Homo sapiens: one gene and its partners. The protein of the gene in region 1 purifies or fractionates together with the protein of each later gene. This does not show direct contact. Each region holds a gene or a part of one and is shown in the gene's direction. Other genes may lie near its edges.

What was found. Proteins that work in one complex are often made in the same cells at the same time.
Region 2: the proteins of TMC7 (region 1) and ZFAND2B purify together in Homo sapiens (affinity purification with mass spectrometry; 2 studies listed by BioGRID and IntAct, with this or other methods). This does not show direct contact.
Region 3: the proteins of TMC7 (region 1) and HLCS purify together in Homo sapiens (affinity purification with mass spectrometry; 2 studies listed by BioGRID and IntAct, with this or other methods). This does not show direct contact.

What each region holds. Positions count from the first base shown.
Region 1 is NC_000016.10:19,035,916-19,042,955, forward strand, and holds part of TMC7 (transmembrane channel-like protein 7), read left to right. Parts: intron 1-1,958; coding exon 1,959-2,132; intron 2,133-4,373; coding exon 4,374-4,531; intron 4,532-7,040. UniProt on the Homo sapiens protein: Acts as an inhibitory modulator of PIEZO2 mechanosensitive channel in dorsal root ganglion (DRG) neurons through physical interactions or interference with the interaction between PIEZO2 and the cytoskeleton.
Region 2 is NC_000002.12:219,202,468-219,209,791, forward strand, and holds ZFAND2B (AN1-type zinc finger protein 2B), read left to right. Parts: upstream 1-4,314; 5' UTR 4,315-4,520; coding exon 4,521-4,575; intron 4,576-4,859; coding exon 4,860-4,954; intron 4,955-5,180; coding exon 5,181-5,312; intron 5,313-5,419; coding exon 5,420-5,571; intron 5,572-5,788; coding exon 5,789-5,881; intron 5,882-5,958; coding exon 5,959-6,019; intron 6,020-6,104; coding exon 6,105-6,172; intron 6,173-6,509; coding exon 6,510-6,582; intron 6,583-6,794; coding exon 6,795-6,839; coding exon of another isoform or gene 6,840-7,155; 3' UTR 7,156-7,181; downstream 7,182-7,324. UniProt on the Homo sapiens protein: Plays a role in protein homeostasis by regulating both the translocation and the ubiquitin-mediated proteasomal degradation of nascent proteins at the endoplasmic reticulum.
Region 3 is NC_000021.9:36,748,116-36,753,699, reverse strand, and holds the end of HLCS (biotin--protein ligase), read left to right. Parts: 3' UTR 1-5,074; downstream 5,075-5,584. UniProt on the Homo sapiens protein: Biotin--protein ligase catalyzing the biotinylation of the 4 biotin-dependent carboxylases acetyl-CoA-carboxylase, pyruvate carboxylase, propionyl-CoA carboxylase, and methylcrotonyl-CoA carboxylase.

The sequences.
Region 1 (7,040 bases):
CGGGGACAGGTTGTCCCTGGTACTTAGCAAGTTACCCCTCTGTAGCTTTCAAGAACGTTTCACAGCGAACACGTTACTGGGGTTGATTACCCTAGACCTGAACAGGAGCACTGGTGAACTGGGACTGGGAAGTGGGGTGGGGATGCAGTGGCTGGAAGAAGGTGATGTCTTTCCCCACACCCTGCTACTTTACACTGTTATTTTTCCACCTGAGGAGGACCTGTCATAAACACTACTTATACCAGGAGAAATGGGAGTGAGGAGGGAATGTTATGACAATAGTGTGAGATGGAGAGTATATGAAAAAGTACAGACCGGGCGTGGTGGCTTATGCCTGTAATCCCAGCACTTTGGGAGGCTGAGGCAGGCATATCACAAGGTCAGGAGATCGAGACCATCCTGGCTAACACGGTGAAACCCCATCTCTACTAAAAATACAAAAAATTAGCCAGGCATGGTGGCACATGCCTGTAGTCCCAGCTACTTGGGAGTCTGAGGCAAGAGAATCGCTTGAACCGGGAGGCAGAGGTTGCAGTGAGCCGAGGTTGCACCACTGCATTCCAGCCTGGGTGACAGAGCGAGACTCCGTCTCAAAAAAGAAAAAAAAAGTACAAGAGAGTTTCCAACCATCTCTACTAAAAATACAAAAAATTACTTGGGCATGGTGGCACATGCCTGTAGTCCCAGCTACTTGGGAGTCTGAGGCAAGAGAATCAATTGAACCAGGAGGCAGAGGTTGCAGTGAGCCTAGATTGTGCCACTGCATTCCAGCCTGGGTGACAGAGCTAGACTCCATCTCAAAAAAAAAAAGTACATGAGAGTTTCCAAATGAATAAGGAGAGAAAGGAGTAAAGAATAGCATGTTAATAAAAATAAACCCATCAAAGAAAAGGAGGAGGGGACAAATAAATCAAAAGCATAATAAAATGGAAGGAATCAAATCAAATCTATTCTTTCTTACACTAAATACGAACTGATTAAATTATCCTAATAAAAGCAGAGACTACTACATTGTGTAAAAGAAAAAATAACAACACCTCACCTGTATTGTGTTTGAAGAAATGACACATACTATATTTAAGTAATATGAATAGTTTATAGTTCTGTTTTCACATTTATTGCAAAGCCCAATTGCAGTCTTAAATAGGAGGTTCTGTCTTTACTTAGGTCTTTAGTAGACATAAAAAATAGTTGGGCTAGGCCAGGCGCAGTGGTTCATGCCTGTAATCCAGCACTTTGGGAGGCCGAGGCAGGTCAGGGTCAGGAGATTGAGACCATCCTGGCCAATATGGTGAAACCCCGTCTCTACTAAAATTACAAAAATTAGCTGGGCATGGTGGTGCATGCCTGTAATCCTAGCTTCTCGGGAGGCTGAGGCAGGAGAATGACTGGAACCAGGGAGTCAGAGGTTGCAGTGAGCCGAGATTGGACCACTGCACTCCAGCCTGGCAACAGAGCGAGACTCTGTCTCAAAAAAAAAAAAAAAAAGAAAGAAAAAAAGTAGTTGGGCTAAGTCTAGGATGGTTTCTTGGGGGAGATGAATATTTAAAAGATGTCTTTTTTTTTTTTTTCTGAGATAGCATTTTACTCTGTCACCCAGGCTGGAGTACAGTGACGTGATCATACATCACTGCAGACTCGAACTCCCGGGCTCAAGCAATCTTCCACATCAGCCTCCCGAGTAGCAGCGACTACAGGCACTCATCACCACACCCAGCTAATTCTTCTGGGTTTTCTTGTAGAGATGGGGTCTCACTATGTTGCCAGGGTTGGTCTTGAACTCCTGGGCTCAAGTGATCCTCCTACCTTGGCCTGCCACGGTGCTAGGGTTACAGGAGTGAGCCACCATGCCTGGCTAGAACTCTTAAAGATGGATGGGGAGAGAATGATGAATCAATTTCTATCCCTGAGTATCCCTTCATCCCACTGCTCACAAGTGAATTTTCTTTTATCTTCAGGCAGATCTGGAGGAAGAAAGAATGCGGCAGAAAATAGCAGAAAGGACCTCAGAAGAAACAATACGCATTTACTCTTTGAGACTGTTTTTGAACTGTATTGTTCTGGCTGTTTTAGGGGCATGCTTTTATGCAATATACGTAGCAACTGTCTTCTCGCAAGAGCACATGAAAAAGGTAAATTAACTTGTACTCTGGCTGGACATTATGCCTAGTGCACTGAAAATCTGTGAGGTAGATACCATCGTCATTTCTGTTTTACATATGGAGATACAAGTTTGGCTGATATGATCAAGACCTGAAAATCAGAGGTGATCAGTTTCCACTTTTTTATTTTTTTTTGAGATGGAGTTTTGCTCTTCTTGCCCAGACTGGAGTGCAATGGCATTGTCTTGGCTCACTGCAGCCTCTGCCTCCCAGGTTCAAATGATTCTCCTGCCTCAGCCTCCCGAGTAGCTGGGATTACAGGCATGTGCCACCACGCCTGGCTAATTTTGTGTTTTTAGTAGAGACTGGGTTTCTCCATGTTGATCAGGCTGGTTTTGAACTTCTGACCTCAGGTGATCTGCCCGCCTCCACCTCCCAAAGTGCTGGGATTACAGGTGTGAGCCATTGTGCCCTGCCCAGTTTTCACTTTTAAGAGAACTTTTTTGTTTTTGTTGTTGAGACAGAGTCTCACTCTGTCGCTCAGGCTGAAGTGTGGTGGTGTGATCTCAGTTCACTGTAACCTCCACCTCCCAGGTTCAAGTGATTCTCATGCCTCAGCCTCCCTAGTAGCTGGCATTACAGGGATGTGCCACCACACCCAGCTAATTTTTGTATTTTTAGCAGAGACGGGGGTTTCACCATGTTGGCCAGGCTGGTCTCGAACTCCTGACCTCAAGAGATCCACCCACCTTGGCCTCCCAAAGTGCTGGGATTGCAGGTGTTAGCCACCGCACCTGGCCTTAGAGAAAATTTTAAAAGCATCTAAAGTGTAGTGTTTGAGATCCTTACTGCTCCTGGAATTTGCAATATTCAAAACTAGGCTGGACTAGGGTTTTATCCCTGACTGTTATTTTTGAACTAAGGCCTTGGTTTACCTAAAATAGCAGTGGTTTTAAAATTCCAAGTTTGTCTAGTGGCTCTGTTTTATGCAATCAATCATCAGGGGTCCAGGTTCCGTTCATCTTGTGGCTCTGCCCTCCCTAGGATATGGTTTTCTTTTCTTCTTTCTTTTTTCTTTTTTTTTTTTTTTTGAGACAGAGTCTCACTCTGTCACCCAGGCTGGAGTGCAGTGGCACGATCCCGGCTCACTGCAACCTCCACCTCCCGGGTTCAAGTCATTCTCCTGTCTCAGCCTCCCGAGTAGCTGGGATTACAGGCACCCGCCAACACACCTGGCTAATTTTTGTATTTTTGGTAGAGACAGGGTTTCACCAGTTTGGCCAGGCTGGTCTTGAACTTCTGACCTCAAGTGATCCACCTGTCTCAGCATCCCAAAGTGCTGGGATTACAGGCATGAGCCACCACACCTGGCTGGGTATGGTCTTCTGTATGGTACAAGATAGCTCACCACCATGGCCACATTCTAGCCAAGGGGAAGGAGATGAAGGGGCTAAGGAGGGCACATTTCTTCCTTTAAAGGGCATAACCTGTGGGTTACACTAAAAACTTCCACTTATATCCCCTTGGCCAGAATTTAGTCACATGGTAGTACCTAGCTACAAGGGAGGCTAGGAAATTTACTTTTTATTGCGGATGGCTATATATTGTCCAGGTAGTCTGTTACTGTGAAAGCAGGGAATTGCTATTTCAATTTCAAATCAAATCAATTCTACACCCTTGAAGATACTTTAAATTGCCCGTTTATACAGAATACATGGGTCTTCTTATACATCCCTTTAATAAATCCAGTAGATCCTGGTTTTCTTCCTGCACAGTACTAGATACCTCTTTTTGAATATCTGAAGAAGGAGATGGCGGCCGGGCGAGGTGGCTCATGCCTGTAATCCTAGCACTTTGGGAAGCCAAAGCGGGTGGATCACCTGAGGTCAGGAGTTTGAGACCAGCCTGACCAACATGGTGACACCCTGTCTTTACTAAAAATACAAAAATTAGCCTGGCATGGTGGGGGGTGCCTGTAGTCCCAGCTACTCGGGAGGCTGAGGCAGGAGAATCGCATGAACCTGGGAGACGGAGGTTGCAGTGAGCCGAGATTATGTCCCTGCACTCCAGCCTGGGTGACAGAAGGAGACTCCATCTCAAAAAAAAAAAAAAAAAAAAAAAGGAACGAGATGACTTATGCTTACAGGCCATGTTGAATGACAAATACGTTTTGTTTGCCCAACACACATAGTTGAGTTCTTTTTTGTTCTATCTATTTGTGGTGTAACTTCCTCATATACTCCTGACTAATAAGTTTTGTTATCCTCCTAGGAAATCGACAAGATGGTTTTTGGAGAGAACCTCTTCATATTGTATCTACCGTCTATTGTGATCACGCTGGCCAATTTTATCACCCCAATGATCTTTGCCAAGATCATCCGCTATGAGGATTATTCTCCAGGCTTTGAGATCCGTCTGACAATCCTTAGGTAATGCCTAACATGAAGATGGCAGGCATGTCAAGCCAGTCACTACCTGCCCACTCTCTTGCCCATGGCAGACATCGCTAATCAATTGTAGTGCATTTTCCTGCTGAGCCAAGAGTCCTCCTCAACCTTCAGACAGCCCCCATGAATGAATCAGAATTTGTATATATGGTGAAATGTCTTTGATTTGAAAGTCTACTCCTTGGTATTATATTTTTGCTTCATATAATAGCACAGGGCACAGGCTGGGACCCTGAGAGGAGGGGTTGCTCTAAAGCTGTCAGAAATGACAGCTATAAGGCAGAGTCCAGGGAGTTAACACAAATGAGTGGAGAGGACCAGGTGGGACTGTGCAGGACTTGAGAGTTTTCTTTCTGTTTCTCAAATGCCTTAGATTGCATTTGCATCTTATTTCAAACATTTTTTATTTTGAAAATTTTCTTTGATTCTTTTTTTTTTTTTTTTGAGATGGGGTCTTACTCTGTCCCCCAGGCTGGAGTGCAGTGATGTGATCATAATTCACTGCAGTCTCAAATCCCTGATCTCAAACAATCCTCCCACCTCAGCCTCCCACATAGCTGGGACTACAGACATGCACCACCATGCCCAGCTAATTAAAAAAATTTTTTTTTTTGTAGAGACAGGGTTTTGTTATGTTTCCCAGGCTGGTCTTGAATTCCTGGGCTTCAGTGACCCTCCCACCTCCAGCTCCCAAATCCTGGGATTACAGGCAAGAGCCACCATGCCCGGTCTCAAAGTTTTCAAACAGAATGCATAGTGTAATGATCCCCATATGCCTTTCACTTACATTTCAGTCATTCCCAGCATTTTGCTAATCTCGTTTCCATCCATTCCCTCCTAATTTGCTAGATTATTTTAAGCAAATCTCAGGCAACATGCCATTTCATCTGTAAACACTTCATTATACCTTTTTTTTTTTGAGACGGAGACTTGCTCCGTTGCTCAGGCTGGAGTGCAGTGGCGTGATCTTGGCTCACTGCAACCTCCACCTCCCGGGTTCAAGCGATTCTCCTGCCTCAGCCTCTCAAATAGCTGGGACTACAGGCACGGGCCACCATGCCTGGCTAATTTTTTAAAATATATTTTTAGTAGAGATGGGGTTTCACCATGTTGGCCAGGCTGGTCTCGAACTCCTGACCTCAGATGATCCACCCACCTTAGCCTCCCAAAGTGCTGGGATTACAGGCGTGAGCCACCGTGCCCAGCCAACTTCATTATATCTCTAAGTGATGGGAGCTTTAAATATATAACCATCATCACACCTAATAAAATTGAGGCGGTCTCCCCAGTGGGGTTGCAGATGGTTTTCCATGTTTGATTTGTTCAAAGCTGAATCCAAACAAGGCCCACATGCTGTTTGGTAGTCATGTGTCCTAAATCTCTTTTATTATTTTCAGAGTTTCCCCTCCCCTTTTGTTAGGCCTTTGATTTGTGGAAGAAACTGGATCATTTTCCTGTAGAATAGCTCCTATTCTGGATTTCGTCCATTGTTTCTTCCTGGTGTGTTTAATTTGTTTTTCTATGCCCATAGTTGCTATAAATGACTGTGGAGATTCAGAGTTTTTGGTAGATTCTGTGTCAGTTTTTAGTTAAGGAAACCTCATCAGGGGTGCCGTGTCCTTCCTGTTGTATCCCAGCAGAGGCACAGAAGGTGGTGTTAGTAATGAGAACAGTGAGCAGAGGGCGTGGGTTCGCTCTTTCCCCCATTCTTTTCTTTCCATTTTATTTATTTATTTTTTTTGAGACTGGGTCCAGGCTGGAGTGCAGTGGCATGATCGTAGGTCACTGCAGCCTTGACCACCTGGGCCCAAGTGACCCTCCTGCCTCAGTCTCTCGAGTAGCTGGGACTACAGGTGCACACCACCATGCCAAGCCAATTTTTAAATTTTTTGTAGAGACAGGATCTCCTCACGTTGCCCAGGCTGTTCTCAAACTCCTGGGCTCAAGCAATTCTCCCACCTCAGCCTCCCAAAGTGTTGGGATTACAGGCTTATGAGCCACCATGCCCAGTCTCCCTTATTCTTTAAATTATTCCTTCTTTTTTTTTTTTTTCTTTTTTTTGAGACGGAGTCTCACTTTGTCGCCCAGGCTGGAATGCAGTGGCTCGATCTTGGCTCACTGCAAGCTCCGCCTCCCGGGTTCACGCCATTCTTCTGCCTCAGCCTCCCGAGTAGTTGGGACTACAGATGCCCGGCACCACGCCCGGCTAATTTTTTGTATTTTTTAGTAGAGATGGGCTTTCACCATGTTAGCCAAATGTTTCTATTTAATTTATTTTTTTATTTTTATTTTTATTTTTCGAGACGGAGTCTCGCTCTGTCACCCAGGCTAGAGTGCAGTGGCGCGATCTCGGCTCACTGCAAGCTCCGCCTCCCGGGTTCACGCCATTCTCCTGCCTCAGCCTCCCAAGTAGCCGGGACTACAGGCCCCCGCCACCATGCCCGGCTAATTTTTTGTACTTTTAGTAGAGATGGGGTTTTACTGTGTTAGC
Region 2 (7,324 bases), on another chromosome or scaffold:
TTGCTTGAACCCAGGAGGCAGAGGTTGCAGTGAGCTGAGATCATGCCACTGCACTCCAGCCTGGGCGACAGAGCGATACTCCATCTCAAAAAAAAAAAAAAAAGATTCCTCTTTTCAGTAGTTAAGGAGGGTCCAAGAGTAGATTTTTGGGAGGCAAATTTGTATGATGGAAAGAACATAGAACTGAAGACAATACAAAAATTTAGGTCCAGATTCTGACTTCGTAGCAAGTAATTTAATCTCTCTCAACTTCAGATTTTTTATCTGCAAAATGGGGATACATGATATCTTTTTCAAAAGATTTTCTTTCTTTTTTTTTTTTTTTTTTTGAGACAGAGTCTCACTCTGTTGCCCAAGCTGGAGTGCAGTGGCACAATCTCGGCTTACTGCAAGCTCCGCCTCCTGGGTTCACGCCATTCTCCTGCTTCAGCCTCCCGAGTAGCTGGGACCACAGGTGCCCGCCACCACGCCCAGCTAATTTTTTGTATTTTTAGTAGAGACAGGGTTTCACCGTGCTAGCCAGGATGGTCTCGATCTCCTGACCTTGTGATCTGCCCGCCTTGGCCTCCCAAAGTGCTGGGATTACAGGCGTGAGCCACCGTGCCCGGCCTACTTCAAAGGATTTTCACAGGGGATTAAATAAGCTAACACATGAGGAAGAGCAGGACACAACAATAAGTGCTAGTTTTTCTTTCCATTTCTTTTTTTTCCTGTTTCTTTATTAATTGAGACATAGTCTCGCTCTGTTGCCACCATGCCTGGCTGATTTTTGTATTTTTAGTAAAGACAGGGTTTCACCATGTTGGCCAGGGTGGTCTTGAACTCCTGGCTTCTGGTGATCTGCCCACCTCAGCCTCCCAAAGTGTTGGGATTATAGGCATGAGCCATCGTGCCTGGCCTTTTCCTTCCATTTCTATATGCACTGTTTCACTAAGAGTCAATTGAGAGGCGGAAAACCACTGAGACAAATACCATTAAACTAATATTCAAGTTGAATTGGAGCCAAGACACCTTTTCTGGCTATCCTCAGTTTGACCTTGTCTGCTTTAGACCTGCTAAAGCTAAAATAACTGGCGTCTGGCTATGACTATGCCTGCGAATTTTAGAGGAACCTATGTCTACTGTCCCAATGAGAGGCTGCAGCTCAGTTACCCACAGCTAAAGCGCAAGGCTGCTTAGCAGGTCTGTGTATGCTTTGTTGGTCTACAATAAAAGAGACTTAAGTAATGCTCAGTTGTTAATTGATATCTCCTAAAATAGCTAATTCAAGTTGCAAAATGTTATTTGATTTCTCTCTCAGTGTTCTCCTGGCTTCTTTTATTCAGGAAGCAAGGAGGCTACATTGGGGAATGGTGACTTTGGTTTGTGCGGGCACTCTTTTTAAATCGTGGGATGAGAACATCACCCAGTGAGAAAGCCCCTGGGCTGGTAATCAGCACAGAGAGCTTAGTCAGGACTATAACCCATCAGTCAGAAAAATATTTGCCTGGGAAGAGAGATACTACCGTGAGAGCTTCATTCACTTTTATCGTGGTCGCTGGGGTCTCTGAGGTAAGTCTGTTATGGCATGATATGGTCTGGATATGTGTCCCCTCCAAATCTCATGTTGAAATGTATTCCCGCCGGGCGCAGTGGCTCATGCCTGTAATTCCAGCACTTTGGGAGGCCGAGGCGGGCGGATCACGAGGTCAGGAGATCGAGACCATCCTGGCTAACACGGTGAAACCCCATCTCTCCTAAAAATACAAAAAATTAGCCGGGCGTGGTGGCATGCGCCTGTAATCCTAGCTACTTGGGAGGCTGAGGCAGGAGAATGGTATGAACCCGGGAGGCGGAGGTTGCAGTGAGCTGAGACTGTGCCACTGCACTCCAGCCTGGGCGACAGAGTGAGATTCTGTCTCAAAAAAGAAAAAAAAAAAAAAAAAAAGAAAAGAAAAAGAAATGTATTCCCAATGTCAGAGGTGGGACCTGGCAGGAGGTGATTGGAACCTGAGAGTGGACCCCTCATGAATGGCTTAGTGCCATCCTCTTGGTGATGAGTGAATTCTCACTCAGTTCACATCAGATCTGGTTTTGAAAAGACTCTGGGACCTCCCTCTTCTCTCTCTTGCTCCCACTCTTGCCATGTGACATGCCTGTTCCCCCTAGGCCTTCTGCAATGATTAGAAGCTTCCTGAGGCCTCACCAGAAGCTGAGCAGATGCTGGCACCATGCTTCCTATGCAGTCTGCAGAACCATGAATAAATTAAACCTCTTTCTTTATAAATCAACCAGCCTCAGATTTTTTTTTTTTTTTAAAGACAGGGTCTCACTTTGTTATCCAGCTGAAGCACAGTGGTACAATCATAGCTCACTGCAACTTCGAGCTCCTAGGCTCAAGCAATCCTCCCACCAAAGCCTCTCGAGTATTTGGGACAACGGGTGGATGCCACCATGCCCAGCTAACTTTTTAAAAATTTTTTTTGTAGAGAGGGAGGTCTTACTATGTTGCCCAGGCTGGTCTCAAACTCCTGGACTCGAGTGACCCTCCCACCTTGGCCTCCGAGGGATGGGATTACAGGCATGAGCCACCATGCCTAGCGAGGTATTTCTGTATAGCAACATAAGAACAAATGACTACATTTGCACTTCAAGCATTCTGGCTCATGCTCAAAAATGAGATCCGAAGATTTTTATTTTTTGAGTTCCACAAGGCTTTGGTTATCTGAGCATTTGTAAAGTGGGAGTGGGGAGAGAGGCAGTGTTTATCTTTGTTTAGTCTGCTCCATACACGTTTCTCCAAACTGAAAGCCTACAATTCTTTCTATTTTTGTAGAGACAGGGTCTCACTATGTTGCCCAGGCTGGAACTCCTAGGCTCAAGCGATCCTCCTGCGTCAGCCTCCCAAAGTGCTGAAATTACAAGCGTCAGCCACCATGCCGGGACTGGAAGCCTACAATTCTAAATTGTACTGATGAATATAGAGAGGAAAAAAAATGAATAAACAAAATTCTTAGAACCAAATGATTATAATGAGACTGGGAAAAAATTATTTGAAATCTGACAGTTATATATTGAAACAAAATAAAAGCATTTATAAAGTCCTGGATGCAATTTAAAATAAAAAGAATATTGGCTGGGAGTGGTGGCTCATGCCTGTAATCCCAGCACTTTGGGAGGCCGAGGCGGGCAGATCACGAGGTCAGGAGTTCGAGACCAGCCTGGGCAACATGGTGAAACGCCGTCTCTAAAAATACAAAAATTAGCTGGACGCAGTGGTGTGCACCTGTAGTCCCAACTACTTGGGAGGCTGAGGCAGGAGAATCGCTTGAACCCGGGAAGCAGAGGTTGCAGTGAGCCGAGATCATGCCACTGCACTCCAGCCTGGGTGACAAGAGTGACACTGTGTCTCAAAAAAAAAAAAATTATATTGGTCAGGTGTGGTGGCTCACGTCTGTAATCCCAGCACTTTGGGAGGCCAAGGCAGGAGGATCACTTAAGGCCAGGAGTTCGAGACCAATCTGGGCAACAAAGAGAGACCCCTCCCCAACCCCATTTCTACAAAATTAAAAATTAGCTGAGCACGGTGGCTTGTGCCTGTAGTCCTGGCTACATTCAATAATTACTAAGAATATTCTAGGCTAGGGTTTTTCAGAGTGTGGTGCATGGCAATCTGTGTCAGAATTCCTTCAGGTGCTTCCTACTGAATTAGAAGCTCCAGGGCCCGGAAATCCGCATTTTAAACTAGCTCCGTAGGCGATTTGGATTCACACTAAAGACTGAGGACCACACTGTTCTAGGCACTGTTAGGTGCTGGGACCTAACACGAAACAAGGTAGACGTGGTTCCTGATTTCCCAGTATGCTCATATAGGGGTTGGTCGCATTAGTGATATGGGTGCTAGAATGGAAGAAGTAAGATCACATAGCAGGTGCGCCTAGTTCAGACTGAGGAGGGATCTGCAGCTCTAGAGACGTCTGTACTTCAGAGAAATACAGGAGCTGTCAGCTCGTGGAGGCGAAGGGCAGCCGTGGCCGTGAACAAAATGGCCAGGAGGAGGGCATCGTGTGTGAAGCGGGCTAAGGACCGAATTGTGAAAGACCCCAAACCACCCAGCCTTCCATCCCCCAAGATATCCGTCTTTGCCTTCGCTGGCCTTCCTCTGCGGAGCTACGCCCGCGCCCAGGGTGGCGGAGCCGCGCATCAACACCCTCTCGCCTCGGGACAGTCTTCCGACTCAGCCTTCTAGAGCAAGGCGAGGCGGGGCGGGGCTCAACCGAGGCCCTCCCCGGCTGCCCGGAGACTGCGCCGGACGCGCCAGCCCTGCGGGATGACGTCAGCGCGCCGCGCGCGCCGAGGGAGGAGCGGGCGCCGGGGGCCGGCTGGCGCGGGGGCTCCGGTAACCCGGGCTGGGCGGGGGAGAGGAAGGGGCGGGGCAGGGAGCCCGCCAGAGTGCGGGGTCGCGGTGCGGACTTCGAGCACGAGCCCTAAAGACGCTCAGCACTCGTCGCTTCTCCTAGCAGACCCTGCCCGGCTTGGCGATGGAGTTTCCGGACCTCGGCGCTCACTGTTCGGAGCCGAGCTGTCAGCGCTTGGGTGAGGGGCGGAGCGCGCGGGGGGCGGGGCCCAGCGGACAGGGACTTTGAACCGCAGGTTGGGAGGGAAGGGTGGGCTCCCAGGCTGGCAATGCCGGGGGGCGGGGCTTGAAGCTGGGGGGGGGTGGTCAGCGGCAGAGGGGGCGTGGCCAAGGAGGTAATGGGCTTGGGAAGGGGCGGTGTGTCGAAAATAGGGTGGCGTTTTCCTTCCCGAGTGGAAGACTTGAGTGAGAGAGAAGGACATCGAGGTCCCGCTGGACCTGCAATCCGACCAACTCTTTGCAGATTTTCTGCCGCTTAAGTGTGATGCCTGCTCAGGCATCTTCTGCGCAGACCATGTGGCCTACGCCCAGCATCACTGTGGATCTGCTTACCAAAAGGTGAGGGGGCGATCCTCAGGGTGAAAGCAGGCAGATGGAGAATGCGTGCAGAATCCCCCAAATCTGTGTCTCACGTTTCTTCTCCCTTTTGTCCTTCTGAGGCTGTCAGTGCTGGGAAACACTGTTTTTTTGCGTGTTTGTGGTGGGTCATATCCAAGTTCTTTCAGGACCAGAGATTTGTTGGACTGGAGTGGGCCACAGACTGACCCTTGCTCCTTGACTACAGGATATCCAGGTACCTGTGTGCCCTCTCTGTAATGTGCCTGTGCCTGTGGCCAGAGGGGAGCCCCCTGACCGTGCTGTGGGAGAGCACATTGACAGAGACTGTCGCTCTGATCCAGCACAGCAAAAACGTAAGGTAAACATTGTAGGGGTCAGCCACAACCCAGCTGGGACTACGGATGCCTGGAAACCCAAACAGCTAATCAGAGTCTCAGCAGAGACAACCTTCTCACTTCACCTCAGATCTTCACCAATAAGTGTGAACGCGCTGGCTGCCGGCAGCGAGAAATGATGAAACTGACCTGTGAACGCTGTAGCCGAAACTTCTGCATCAAGCACCGGCATCCACTGGACCATGATTGCTCTGGGGAGGGGCACCCAACCAGCCGGGCAGGGTAATGGCAGCCAAGTCCTCCACTTGCTTTTGGGAAGCATTCTTTTGGAACTGACTCAAGCTCTGTTGTTATAAATTGGGGAGCTTCAACCCTACCCTGTCGGCTAGGGGAGTCTTTTAGCTTCCTTTTCAAGTGCATGTTTTTCCAGAACTCCCCTCCTGACTTCCTGGGTAAGGCTAGTTCTTGGAGACATGCCAAAAATCTCTCTTCCCTACAGACTTGCTGCCATCTCCAGAGCACAAGCTGTGGCTTCTACAAGCACTGTCCCCAGCCCAAGTCAAACCATGCCTTCCTGTACCTCTCCCAGCAGGTAGGCCTGCCCGTTTCCCTGCTCCCCCTTTTTCCCCTTCACACCTCTGACCTCCACCTCTTCAATGTCTGTCGTAGAGCCACAACCCGATCTCCGTCCTGGACAGCCCCTCCAGTGATTGCTTTGCAGAATGGCCTGGTGAGTTGGGCAGAGGTTGGATGGACAGAAACAAACACACAGAGAGTGAAGTCCAAGGACGCTGGTCTTCTTTCTCCCTTTGTAGAGTGAGGATGAAGCTCTGCAGCGGGCCCTGGAAATGTCCCTGGCAGAAACCAAACCCCAGGTTCCAAGGTACCTTACCCTCTTGTGAAAGAGAGCGCAAGCTGTGGGCAAGGGCTTGGTCTGGAGGCAGGTAGGTGGGACCACTCTGACACAATGCAAGATAATCGCTGGCAACTTGGTCTCAAAATTAAGATGAACTATATGATCTTTGACAAGTTATTTAACCCATGGAGCCTTCATTTCCTCTATAAAACGGGGACAATACTAATACCCACCTTGTAGTGTTGCTATGAAGATTGAGATAATCCTCAGCAGTGCTCAGCACCATGAGGCCCAACACACACAGATCAGATGTTCAAATTTCAGATCTTACCATCATCCAACTTAAACTGTTTCTCCCTCCCAGTTGTCAGGAGGAAGAAGACCTAGCTTTAGCACAAGCACTGTCAGCCAGTGAGGCAGAATACCAGCGGCAGCAGGTATGAGGCTGGGCTGAAGATATATGCTGCAGTGGAAGGGAGGAAGAAGTCAGGGATGGGGGTTCTTCCTAGTGGTGCAGAGTTTTGGAATGGTGGTTATCGTCTGGTTTTCAGTATGACTCCAGCCCATGCTGAGCTCTGAAATGAGGGCTGTCCCTCATTTCCTTGACGTTGCACTGTGTCTTCCCCTCCTTCCCCTCTCTTTGCTCTAGGCCCAGAGCCGCAGCTCGAAGCCGTCCAACTGCAGCCTGTGCTAGGGCCCTGGGCTTGGGGAGGGAGGTTCACCTGAGGAGGACTGTGGCCCTCACACCTCTAGGGTACACAGGGAGAGGAGGCCCGGAGCACCCTGGAGGGCAGAGACAAGCGGGAGTGATGTGGAGGTCGCCCTGGGAGCCTCTGGAAGGCCTTGCTAGTGCTCCAGCTGCATGGAAGAGAGCGGCTAGCAACTGTTCCCTGGTTGGGCCCTCAGTGGATGCTGGCCAGGCCCTACTCTTAGCCCCTTCATCATGTCATCTCCCTTATGCTGGAGCTGCCCCGATGTGGAGTGGGCAGGAAGGGGCCTGGAAAAAATAAAGGATCTTGGCAGTTGATAAAACGTACAAGTGGTGTGTTTCTCTCTCCTCTCTAACCTCAAACAGGAAAGCCGTGTCAAGAATGCTCATCTGACTTATGGGTAGAGGCCCGCTGCAGTACCCCATCCCACAAAGCCACAGTGATCCTCGCACAGTCCACATTTTTATTT
Region 3 (5,584 bases), on another chromosome or scaffold:
CGGTGGTGTGGCCCCATAGCGAAGTCTAAATGCCTGTAGAGATAGAGCTAGCTGGTGTGGTTGCAGTGACCTTGTAGAGGAAATCAGTTCATTACTTTGACATCATTCAGTGAGCTCTCCTTTCCTAAGGAAGTTTAAATGTCCTTAGTTAGGGACTGACTTTCTTAAGTAAGTTTAAATTTACTACATATTGTGAAGAGACAGGATCAAGTTCAGAATCCTTAAATGTCTGATTAGGCATCACTTGGATGAGGAGGTGGGCGATTTGGCTCTGACAGCTGGAGATGAAGGCACACTCATACCACATACAAGGGAGGATTTGGAGCTTTTAAGCCAGTTTCAGATTTACTCTGAAATGTGGAGCATTCCTGCAAGACTGTGCAGCTCACGGAATATAGAAGACATGGCATTTTACTCAGAAGTCATAAGTTTTTGCCCCCCTCATTTACCTCGTATTACCAAGAAAGAAAATGTTATCGATACTAAACACCATCAGTTCAGAGGGAGGATGTGTGTGTGTGCCCGCATATGTGTGTGCGTGCGTGTGTGCGCACATAGCTTTAAAAGAAGACATTCAAAATTTGATGTGCTACAAGCCTCATGAAAGAACAAAAGAAATGAAGCCTTTTGATATGCATTCGCTATTCCCAGATGTACGCCATGCCTTTTCCATGTCCCTCCTATCTCTGTTGAACTTATGAATCATACTCATTACTTTTCAGCTTTTTAAAAGGCCAATTTTTGTCCAGTTTTCTCTCTTCCAGTCCCAGCTGAAATTAGTGGAAAGAAAGTTTGATGGAGCTTTCAGCTTTGAACAAAATCCCTTCATTGTAAACTAGCACCATCTTTATCCAGGTCTTACCCAGTCAGGCTAATTCCAGAAACTTGTGGTTTTTAGTATAGTCTGTCTACCTTTAGCCAGGCACAGGACAGCCCTATGAAAAAATACCCAATATATATTTTTTGGAAATGAAACATTAAAAGAACTTAAAAAGTAATTTTTGGAAATGAGGCTTCAATTAGAATTATTTTTCTCAAAAAACAAACAAACAAAAAACACAAAAAAAACCACTCTTCTCCAAATGCCCAAGCCTTCTTTCAAAATTAGTTAGAAACTTAAGTAAAATACAAGTCCACACCATCCCCAAATTACAAAATGGACTTACCCTTGAGAGGGCATCTGCAGAATATCATCAGGGACAAAGATCTCGAGGCTAACGATGTAGGTTTCATTTCTCAGACTTTGTAATATAAGGCAAGCCCTCTCTCAGAGCTGCCATCATCACTTTTTGAATTTCTTTGGGGGTTATTTAATGAAAAACATGCTATGTTTTGTTTTAAGCTGAAGTCCTATTCTGGACACTCTGCTTTGGGAAAAAATGTTATCATTTAATTTCCTTTCTGCAAATTAAAACTAATGAAGTGTGGCCTTGTCAAAGGCTATGGAGATGTTCCGGGCATACTGCTGTGCTCTGTGCTTTCCAGCAGGCGCTCCTCCCTCACGCAGGAGACTCAGTTGTCCTGAGAGAGATGAAGCAGCCTTGAAGCAGATGCTGCGTTTTCCATAAACCTGATTTTGCCTCACATGAACCAAAGACTCTCAAAACTCCGCTTCTATAGAATTAGCTGAATAAAGGCATTTTACTGATAGCTGTTCGTGTTAGCGAAACCTGTCTACCTGCTATAGCACACTCTCCGATTTGGGCCATTTATGCACCCCGCAACCTGGGATCTCAAGGAGCTTTAAAGTCTTAATGGGAACTTGGCATTTTCCTGATGATCTTTAAAATGTGGTCACTAAACTCAGGATTGGCGTGTGCTTTTAGAACACTGGAGTAGCCCTTGTTTTAGAGGCTGTGCATTGAGTATCGACCGTATTTTGTAAAAGGCAAGATATCCTCCCTTCCAGGCTGGTAACGGGTTTCAAGGGGACTCTTGAGGAAGTGCCCCCTAAAATAGAACACAGCAATAACTGGGCTTCCTGTCCCCACCCCCACCCCAGCAGTGCTCTCTGGCACTGGGAACTCTGCTAGGGAGTGGTGGAAGTAGGAAGGATTTGTGTGCAAAGGAAAATCGTGGTTGAGTTTCACTGCAGCAGGCTGACGTTGCCTGATGTGAGAGCAAGTGGCCGACTGGGGTGCGGGTGCACAGGTCGGGGGAGCACAGGCCACAGAGCGCAGCCTCTGGGGGTCCCCCAAGGCACAGCATATACAGCATGGTCGCCCCTTGCCCTGGAGTCTGGGAACAAAGAGAGGAGCCAGCCTCCCCGCACTGCTTCAGATGGAAAAGGGAGGCAGGGTGGGCTTCCGTTCTCCAGATCTGTTTGCTCTTAACAGGCAGAACATGGGAGAATCCTTATTCCTGGTTAATCACTATGCATATTTGAAATAAAAGAAAGCGTAAGCCTCTGCAATTTTAACTTCTCAAAGGATGTCTCTGAAAAGAATCACTTTAAACCAATGCCTATAAAAAGCAAGTCTACCAAAATAAACTAAGACTTTCTATGTGGTTTGGGCTCCCTCTTATTTTTACAAGTTTCATTTTTAAAAGTAGGCAACTACTTTGGGTTACAGTATTTTTATTCATATTTAAACATTTTTACAAAATAAATAAAGTGTTTTACATAGTAAGGAATATGTACGTATTTCCAAGTATTAAGAAGCCAAGTGTTTTTTTTTTTGACGTATTATTGACAAATGTATTCAGCGCCATACACAAGAGAAATATTATTACTCCAAAGAACGAAAGTTAACAAAACTCCAAAGCAAAAACCCTTTTAATGGAGGTGAGAAATAAATTTAATGTAACAACAGCTAGATTGTTTTTAGGATTTTTCTTTTCTTTTGTGGAAACTTCTTGACTTGACTTTTCATCTGAACAGTTTTTCCCCCCAAGATTTTAATCTTATATGTCATACTTAAGTTTAGGAACAGCTTGAATAATTAGCATTCTAGATAACACAAGGGCCATGATTCACTAAAATTCCAAGCTACTGTAATTTTATGGCATTTATTTGCAAATGTTCTTTGTATCTCATTTTATCTGTAGCAGTCCCCACTAGTCTACCTTAACCATCTTATAGCTCTGGTAAATTAAAACTTACGTAGACTTTATACAAGATCCATTGGCCGTATTAAACCTCCCCCACTCTTAGGGCTTAGGGCGGAAGGGACGAAGGCAGGGCTGATAGGACTTTTAAAAGGATAAAAGGAGTGGGGGCAAGGGAGGCGGAAAATACAGGCTCTTGCAGATACCCTCCGCGCTGCCCTCCACACCCAGCCCACTGCTCTACAAAGGTATGAATGGAATGGCTTTTCTAGAAAAGGGCTTCCAAGAACATAAAGGAATTCCTTTCCCTGGGAGGCCCCGTGGAGGGCTGAGCCAGCCTTGAATTGGGCTTATTTCTCAAATCCATTTGATCTGGCATTTTTGTCAACATGGTACATGTTAGGGCCTACGATGATTTTTTTTTCTTTTTTGTAAAAGAGAGGCATATGTATTAAAATGCTTCCTCTTCCCCTGCCGGAGCCTCACAGAAGTCAAGAAACGCTATCCCCAGCTTAAATGTGCAGACTCTTCAAGATGGAGGTCACAATATTAGGTTGCCACAGTAACAGCTCTGCTGACTTCACACTCAGCCCTGGCCGTCCTGAAGCCAGCTCGTGTAAGAATCTTCCTTCATGTTCTAGGTTATGAAAACGAAGTTTGTTTAGACAAGGACGTTTTCACTAGTACACATTTTCAAGTACATACACACTCTGTTACGCCTGTCCACGTTGTCACTTGTAAATCTATGATAGGGTCTTTTTTCTCAACAGTAACCTTTGTTATTGAACTGCTCCGATAGCCTTGATTTATTTTTACTAAATACAGCCCCAAAAGTTAATAACAAGGTAGACACAAAAGCATTTTGCAGTACTTTATTGAAAAATGTCGGTGGTATCTCCTAGTAATCAAACCTACACCTTTCAAGAATCACGGTTTAATTACAAGACTCATGAACATAAAAAAATAATACCCTCGGCTTATTTCCTGTGCACACACTCACAAGGAGCTGTGAATGAGGTATAGCTGAGTGCGTGGAGAGGCGGGCACATCCCTTCCTACCATCCAGCCCCTTCGCTGCATGACCCACGGTCCTAAATTTGCAAATTGTGACTCTTACCATGAGGCCCACTGACAGACACCCTGTAGGGATTGTGTCAGGTCCTCACTAAGTGACACAGGGTTGGCAAAAAAAAAAAAAAAAAAGTCAGTTCACATTTTGAGAGCAGTTGGTGTAGGTGCACTTGATTTTAGAACGATGAGTTTAAAACATTTGTGAAAACCTCTTTCCATTCAGAAAGGTGGAAAAAGTTTCCTAAAATAAACCATTTTGATAAAGCAGCAAAATGCTGCAGTGTTGATAGTGTGAAGAAAATTGAAGGACGGCGGTTCAATGCATTGTGCAGTTCAGAGCCATGACAGGATTTTTCCATGTTGAGATCTTTAAGCAAAACCCATAAAAAGTAAAAATTAATGGAAGCTCATTTTTTAAACACTGCTGGTGCTTTATGAAAGGATTTCTGTTTACCTGTTGCACACGTAACATGTTCTTACGAAGTTTTCTCGCTGTGTAGAAAATGCTTAAAATGTCTACATCATTTTCATTACACCCCCTTAAGCATGTTTTTCCTTCACAAGGTGCAGTCCATTGACAGTGTTCCGTATTGCACGTGCAATTTAACTTTATTAGCACTATTTGTAGCAAACACGAGCCTAGTGAATTACAGATCTGTGTGGGCCAGAGGGATTTTGCCACGTAATAATGAAGCTTGACAGGGTCATTCTCATAAACTGTCTGGCTACATATATATTTTTGCATTTAATGCCTATTCAATATATTCTGAAGGTGCTACTCTTGGTGTTATCAAGAGTTCATAGGGGTTAGGGGGAAGTAAGAGCTTGTTAATGTATTTGGGAAGCACACCTATGTTCACAGACACAAAATGGAATTGCATGGTCACCCCCTTAGTCTTGGTTTGTTGGCTTTTTGTATTGAAGAAAGGGTTAAATAAAAACAAAAATAATGAGACTCTTGAATGACTTTTAAAGACAGTGGAGTTGTGTATTCATGGGACTTACAATCATCACTTCTGCCTTCACCTAAGCATCTAAAAGGGCTCGTGACACAGGCGTCCCCTCCCAGGTCTGCCGTCCACTTGGAAGAGCGGACTGTGGTAGGGTGGGTTTTCCCTCCTGAAAGTGGAGGATATTTGCGGAGTGAAACCGCTTCAATCCCCCAGCGGGACTGTTGTGGAACGTTGGGGACAAGGCAAGACGCGTGAAGCCCGATTTCAAGGTGAGGAAACCAAGCCCCCAGCAACTGGGTCGCACCGGCCCTCGCAGGACAGAGGCGGGCGGTCACCTGCCCGGACCCGGGCGCTCCTCGGCCCTCGGCACCGGCGCGCGGGGCCTCCGCGGTGGAAATCCGCAAGTCGGCGGCGGGGTCCAATTCAAACAGCTGTCTCTGCATAAATTAATGTAGGTCGTGCGCATTTGCCGGGCTCGGTGGCGCCGCAGCCCCGGGAGGCCGGGTCCAGGC